2 linked regions of the Homo sapiens genome follow. The protein of the gene in region 1 purifies or fractionates together with the protein of each later gene. This does not show direct contact. Each region holds a gene or a part of one and is shown on either strand. Other genes may lie near its edges. The genes, in order: GALP and ITIH2.

Evidence for each region.
Region 2: the proteins of GALP (region 1) and ITIH2 purify together in Homo sapiens (affinity purification with mass spectrometry; one large-scale study listed by BioGRID and IntAct). This does not show direct contact.

The regions. Positions count from the first base shown.
Region 1 is NC_000019.10:56,178,717-56,182,534, forward strand, and holds part of GALP (galanin-like peptide isoform 1 precursor), read left to right. Parts: intron 1-1,869; coding exon 1,870-1,918; intron 1,919-3,455; coding exon 3,456-3,536; intron 3,537-3,818.
Region 2 is NC_000010.11:7,727,158-7,730,975, forward strand, and holds part of ITIH2 (inter-alpha-trypsin inhibitor heavy chain H2 precursor), read left to right. Parts: intron 1-545; coding exon 546-671; intron 672-2,794; coding exon 2,795-2,976; intron 2,977-3,818. UniProt on the Homo sapiens protein: May act as a carrier of hyaluronan in serum or as a binding protein between hyaluronan and other matrix protein, including those on cell surfaces in tissues to regulate the localization, synthesis and degradation of hyaluronan which are essential to cells undergoing biological processes.

The sequences.
Region 1 (3,818 bases):
GGCTGTGGAGGGTTTTCTCAGCGCTTGGCGTTGTGTGAAACCCGTGATGTGAATTAGCTAATTCTACCCCACAATCCTTTGCAGTTGGTTCTATTTTGCTACTTCCCACCTTACACAGTGGAACACTCTGGCTTAAATATTCAGTGCACATCCTCCTTAAGAGTCTGGAATCTACCGGCCGGGCACGGTGGCTCACGCCTGCAATCCCAGCACTTTGGGAGGCCGAGGAGGGCGGATCACCTGAGGTCAGGAGTTTGAGACCAGCTTGGCCAACATGGCGAAACCCCCTGTCTCTATTAAAAATACAAAAATTAGCTGGGCCTTGTGGCAGGTGCCTGTAAGCCCAGCTGCTCAGGAGGCTGAGGCAGGAGAATCGCTTGAATCCAGGAGGCGGAGGTTGCGGTGAGCCAAGATGGCACCACTGCGCTTCAGCCTGGGTGGCAGAGTGAGACGCGAGACTCCATCTCAAAATAAATAAATAAATAAATAAAGAGTCTGGGATCCACCTGGGTTTGAGTCCCAGCTGTTCTTCTTAGTGTGTTGCAATTTGTTGCAATTTGCAGAATCTTTCTGGGCCTCAAGAGCCTCTTTCTTTCTTTTTTTTTTTTTGAGACGGAATTTCGCTCTGTGGCCCAGGCTAGAGTGCAGTGGCGCAATGTCAGCTCACTGCAAGCTCTGCCTCCCAGGTTCACGCCATTCTCGTGCCTCAGCCTCCCGAGTAGCTGGGACTACAGGCACCCGCCACCACGCCCGGCTATTATATATATATATATTTTGTATTTTTAGTAGAGATGGGGTTTCACGTGTTAGCCAGGATGGTCTCGATCTCCTGACCTCGTGATCCGCCAGCCTTGGCCAAGAGCCTCTTTCTAATGAAGCTAATAGCAAGTTTACCTACTAGGGTTGTTGGAGGAAGAGCCTCTCTTTTTTTTTTTTTTTTTCTTTGAGACAGAGTCTCGCTCTGTCACCCAGGCTGGAGTGCAGGGATGAGATCATAGCTCACTGTAGCCTCAAACTCCTGGGCTAAAGTGATCCTCCCACCTACAGGTGTGCGCCACCATGCCTGGCTAATTTTTGTATTTTTTGTTTTGTTTTGTTTTATTGAGACGGAGTCTCACTCTGTTGCCCAGGCTGGAGCGCAGTGGTGCAATCCCCGCTCACTGCAATCTCCACCTCCCAGGTTCAAGCGGTTCTCCTGCCTCAGCCTCCCAAGTAGCTGGGATTATGCCCAGCTAATTTTTTTTATTTTTAGTAGAGACGAGGTTGGCCAGGCTGGTCTTGAACTCCTGACCTCAGGTGATCCGCCCACCTCAGCCTCCCAAAGTGCTGAGATTACAGGCGAGAGCCACCACGCCCGGCCTAATTTTTGTATTTTTTGTAGAGGCGAGATTTCGCCATGTTGGCCAGGCTGGCCTTGAACTCCTGTTCTCAAGCCATCCTTCTGCTTCGGCCTCCCCAAATGCTGGGATTACAGCATGAGCACCACCCCCAGGCTTAACATATCTTTAAAGTGTGCAACACCGTATTGCTGGCTGTGGGCACGATGTTGTGCCATAGAGCTCTAGGACTTCTTCATCCTGCATAACTGAAATTATACCTGTTGAAGAACAATTCCCCATTTCTCCTTCCCCCCAGCCCCCAATAACCACCTTTCTCCTCTCACAACAGAACGCTTTAAGCTTTCTTTCCAGGCCAGTTGGCTTTGTCTCAGGAAGTCCTCAATTTCCTCATCGGTGCAATGGGGATTGAAATGAACCTGCTCCACAGGCCAGTGGGAAAGTCGTATGACGACCCACATCACCCCGGACCTGTGGGACGCCTGCCCCGCTTTCTGTCTGCTTGAGTCTTGATTTCTGCATCTCTATCCAGGGACGAGGAGGCTGGACCCTCAATAGTGCTGGCTACCTTCTGGGTCCCGGTGAGTGAGGCTGCGCTCAGCTCTCCATCCCTGGCCCGAGTCTGCCTGGTTGCTGCAGGCAGTGAGTTTGTGGCTTGTAAAGACCCTCACCCACATTCACTGAGGCCCATGGATTTATTTGCAGATCTGTCTGGAGGGTTAGTCTAAGCAGAGCGATGGGTGTGTGGACTCTGGAGCCAGAGCCTTGGGCCCAAATCCCAGCTCTGCCCCTTGCTTGGTTTGCAACCTTGATCTCTCTCTCTCTCGCTCTCTCACTCTTTCTTTCTTTCTTTCTTTCTTTCTTTTTTTTTTTTTTTTTTTTTTGACAGAGTCTCGCTCTGTTGCCCAGGCTGGAGTGCAATGGTGAATGGTGCGATCTCAGCTCACTGCAACCTCCGCCGCCCGAGTAGTTTAAGCGATTCTCCTCCCTCAGCCTCCTGAGTAGCTGGGATTATAGGTGCCCAACAGCACGCCCGGCTAATTTTTGCATTTTTAGTAGAGATGGGGTTTCACCATGTTGGCCAGTCTGGTCTCGAACTCCTGACCTCAGGTGATCCACTTACTTTTGGCCTCCCAAAATGCTGGGATTACAGGCATGAGCCACCACACCTGGCTGCAACCTTGATCTCCCTATGCCTCAGTTTCCTCATCTGTGACAGTGGGTGTAATGATGGCCCTTACATCCGAGAATGTTGTGAGGATTGAGTTATTAATAGAACAATAGCTGGTGTGTAGTGGGTGCTGTATAATGATTAGCTGCTATTCTTTGTCTCTCTCTCTCCTTTTTTTTTTTTTTTTTTTTTTTTTTGAGATGGAGTTTCGCCTTGTTATCTAGGCTGGAGTGCAGTGGCGCCAATCTTGGCTCACAGCAACCTCTGCTTCCCGGATTCAAGCAATTCTCCTGCCTCATCCTCCCAAGTAGCTGGGATTACACGCATGCACCACAATGCCCCACCGGCTAATTTTGTATTTTTAGTGGAGACGGGGTTTCTCCATGTTGGTCAGACTGGTCTTGAACTCCCAACCTCAGGTGATCCGCCCGCCTCAGCCTCCCAAACTGCTGGGATTATAGGCGTGAGCCACTGCTCCTGGCAACTTTTTTCTCTTTTCCTCCATTTGTCTCTCCCCATTTCTCCAGTTGCATCTTCCCTGGGCAATAGGTGTGCCCATGGCCACGTGCTGCATAGTGAGCATTACATCCATAAAATACCGAGATTCCCGTGGTGCTCAAGGTTGGTTTCAGTTTGAGCTTCATTCAGGGAAACCCAGGCTGCAGAGACAGTGTGGCAGGAGCAGAAAGAACGTGAGATGTGGACCCAGACCTAGGTGGGTTCAAGCCCCAGTCCTGCCATTAGCAGCAGGGTAATTTCGAGCAAGTGACCGCTTGCAGCTGCACGATTTCCCCACCGGTAGGTAGGGACGGTCAACACGCACCCCGTCCGACAGACTTGGTGGAGGCGCTGCGTCCGGTGAGCCATGCTGTTGAATTGATGGACGATGTGTTTCTTCAGTTCTACTTAACCGACCACCTGCTCTTGCTCTCTCCCTCCCTACCCAGTCCTCCACCTTCCCCAAATGGGTGACCAAGACGGAAAGAGGGAGACAGCCCTTGAGATCCTAGACCTGTGGAAGGCCATCGGTGAGTGAGCGGGGAGTTAGACGTCTTCTCCTGCGTCCTCCCCTGCGGGCTCTCTCCTGGCTTTGGAAACTGGTAGATGTGAGCTCCAGCCCTCACCCTGCCGCTTACTATTTGGGGGGCCCTGGGCAAGTGATGCGTTTCCTTCAAGCTTCTGGGCCGTCACCTGGAGCCCCAGCTTGCTTTAATGTTCTTTTGTTACCAACGTGAAATTCCGAATCCTGTTTGAACCATGGGCCCCGTGTTTTCTCTGCATCAGACCTCACAGAATCCCTCCACTTTGAA
Region 2 (3,818 bases), on another chromosome or scaffold:
TGGGTTCAAATCATGATTCACTTAAGAAGCATTATTCCCATCACAGTGGTCTTTCCCCAGCATTCGAGGGCCTATCTTAAATAATACATTTATTGGTAATGGATGAATGCTAAGTTTGTAGTGAAAGTAGAATTTGTAATACAGCCCACATAAGCTTTGAACCGTTTTAATGTCTCTCAGAAAAAGGTTCAGTGACACTGGCCTTCTTTATTGCCTGCATAAAGCATAAAATGTTACTATCTTCAGAGTATCTTGGCAAGGCTGATTTGGATACTTTAATCTGGTGTTTAACAAGCTAACAGTCTGTGCTTTGAAAGGGCTAGTTCATCTCTAAGGGGATAGTTTATTTCAAAGTGAATATTTCACTGCACTGGGGGACCACCAGCTTGAGCACAGTTTGTGTCACTCAGAAAGCAATGAAATGATTTTGGCATGGAATAAGTGATGGATAAGTGATCAGCCGACATATGAGTCTGAATCCAGAATGGGATTTTCTGCGTGTGGCGAGAACGCATACCCAACGTTTCATTATGCTACTTCAACAGGCACAAACATCAACGAAGCACTCCTACGGGCAATCTTCATTTTGAATGAAGCCAATAACTTGGGACTGTTAGACCCCAACTCCGTCTCGCTGATCATTTTGGTTTCTGATGGAGATCCAACAGTGGGCAAGTGTCACTTCAACCTTCTCACGACAAACACTTTCACTGTTGTTTCTTGGAATGGTGGTTTGCCTAAAAGGGGAACTCTAATGGCATTTGCCTGAGTTTCTAGAACATTTTAAACCCATGCTTCCTAAAGGAGGTCTTCTGATCCTGCAGCCCTCACCCCTTAAGCTACTGCTCAGACACTTTCAGCAAGGGCGCTCTTGAATGCCTCAGTTCCACCTCCACAATATGCAGAAATCTGAGTCTGAATTTTAATAGTATGTTGTGAGGATTGCTGATGCATTCTAGGGAAATGCATCTATTTCCTCAACTTGAGGTATGTGAAGATGGTGTATGGGGGTGGTGAATGATGAGTATTGATCCCAGATCTCCCAGCAGTACCTTTGGAGGCCACAGTAGCATATTCCCTATTATTCTCCACACTTCTCCCGGTTGCACCTGGAGAAATGACTGCTCTCTGACACAACCTTGAAGTTAAACATTTTTCTTTCTACAAAATGGGCAGCAACATCTCCCTACTTCTATTATTTATTTTTATTTTTGTTACATTAGTTTATTTTATTTATTTTTGAAGACAGGGTCTTGCTCTGTCACCCAGGAGGGAGTGCAGTGGAGCACACACAGCTCACTGCAGCCTCAACCTCCCATGCTCAAGTGATCCTCCTACCTCAGCCTCCTGAGTAGCTGGGACTACAGGTGTGCACCACCACACTCAGCTAATTTCTTTTTTTTCTTTCTTTTTTTTTTTGGAGAGACGAAGTCTCACTATGTTGCTCAGGCTGATCTCAAAATCCTGGGCTCAAGCAGTCCTCCCACCTCGGACTCCCAAAATGTTGAGATTACAGGTGTGAGCCACTGTGCCAAGCTATCTTTGTTTTACTTGTGTCTTTATTCTGGCCACTGTAAGTAATAGCGAATGCCAGATTGTGTTGCCTGAGTGTGCTGTCGTACAGACTAGGACCGAGTCTAACACGTCCTGACACAGCCAAGCAGAATGAAAATGCACGAGGCAAAAACAATGGCAGTCAGAGCTTTAGAAAGCCAGAGAGCAACCATCTTATTAATAACGAGACTAGAATGAGCCAGTGTTATGTATTTGTTGTAGAGCCAATGTTTTCTCCCTCAGATCAGATTATTTTCAAAATTCAAGTTTTGAATGAAATCATAAGGTGGAAAAGGAAATATAGTTTAAAATATTAAACTTGCCAGGCATGGTGGCTCACACCTGTAATCCCAGCACTTTGGGAGGCTGAGGTGGGTGGATCACCTGAGGTCAGGAATTCAAGACCAGCCTGGCCAACATGGTGAAACCCCATCTCTACTAAAAATACAAAATTAGCCTGACAGGGCGGCGTGTGCCTGTAATCCCAGCTATTCGGGAGGCTGAGACAGGAGAATCCCTTGAACCCAGGAGGCGGAGGTTGCAGTGAGCTGAGATCGTGCCACTGCACTCCAGCCTGGGCAACAAAGTGAGACTCTGTCTCAAAAAAAAAAACAAAATTAAACCATAATTTGGTTTAATCATGGTTTCTCACTCCTGTTTCTCAACCATTCAGTTCCTGTCCCTGGAATCAGTCACTGGTTACCAGTTTCTTGTGTATCTTTCCACAAATAGTTTATGCATGCCTGTATACTATATATACATGTTTGCACACATGTATGTGTATATGCATACATACACATACATACATTTATACATGCATGCATGCAAATGCATCCTAGGTACCCTGATATTTACCTTGTTTTTTTTTTCTCCTCTAAACATGCCCTTGAGATTGTCTGGTATACATACATAAGGAGTTTCCATGTCCTTTTTAATAGCTGCATAGTATCTCACGGTTTAAATGTATCATCATCTAACCAAGCGCCCTCATTGGTGCATATTTATGTTGTTTCCAATATGTTGCTAATTCCCAAATAATGTTGCTATGCAACACAACCCACACTTCATTTCAACATGTACGAGTGCATCTCTAAGAAAAACTAGAAATTGAGTTACTGGGTCAAAAGGGAAATGCAGTTTTAATCTGGACACACTTTACTAAACTGCCCTCCCTGGATTTTCCAGAAAATTTATGATATTGCTTCTTCATTCCTTTCCTTTCGGACATCACCAACTTTAGGCGAACTAAAACTGTCAAAAATTCAGAAAAACGTTAAGGAGAACATCCAAGACAATATCTCCTTGTTCAGTTTGGGCATGGGATTTGATGTGGACTATGATTTTTTGAAGAGACTGTCCAATGAAAACCATGGAATTGCACAAAGGATTTATGGAAACCAGGACACGTCTTCCCAGCTTAAGGTAACATTTTCTTCTGTTCTTTTTTTATTCTTCACTGGAAATCATTTAACTACCCATATCTGATGCAGGTATGATGCATAACTGAACTTAACTCAAAATGGTCATGATCTCAGCCATATTTGGTTGCAAGGATCAGGGAAGTGCCCAGTTCCTTTCTCACATGTTTCCCCCCACCCTCATATTTCTGCAGTAACAGTGAGGTATGAGGCAGATGGGTGTTGGGAACAGCTGTCCTACCCCCTGAACAAAAAGGCCTTCTGAGCGTCATCAAAGCTCCTTGTAGCTCTCCTGCCCCACCAGCAATTGGTCTTCTTATCATCATGGCCAACCGTTTTCTCTTTAACGTGCATTGGCATCTTGGTATCAATTTTTCACAGTGTAAATTTTCTTAAGTATTAAGATACAGGCTGAGTGTGGTGGCTCATGCCTGTAATCCCAGCTCTTTGGAGGCCAAGGTGGGAGGATCACTCGAGCCCAGAGGTTTAAGGCCAGCTTGGGCAACATAGTGAGATCCATCTGTTCAACAGATAATTTTTTTAATTAAAATACATATATTGAAAAGACACAAACTACTTGTTTGTTTTGATTAAATAGATGAGAAAATGATGTAGGGAAAGAACATGTTTTTCCCTGCTCTTTGTCAGTACCAGGCATCGTATTTAAATTTGGGAACAAGTAAGAGATAAGATTCTGATTTGGGGACTATTAACCCAGCTGACTTTTGTAAAAATTTAATTATTACTATTATTTTTTGAGACAGAGTCTTGCTTTGTCACCCAGGCTGGGTGACAAGTACGTTCAATGGCAGTGCAATGGTGTGGTGCAGTGGTTCAGGAGTGCAG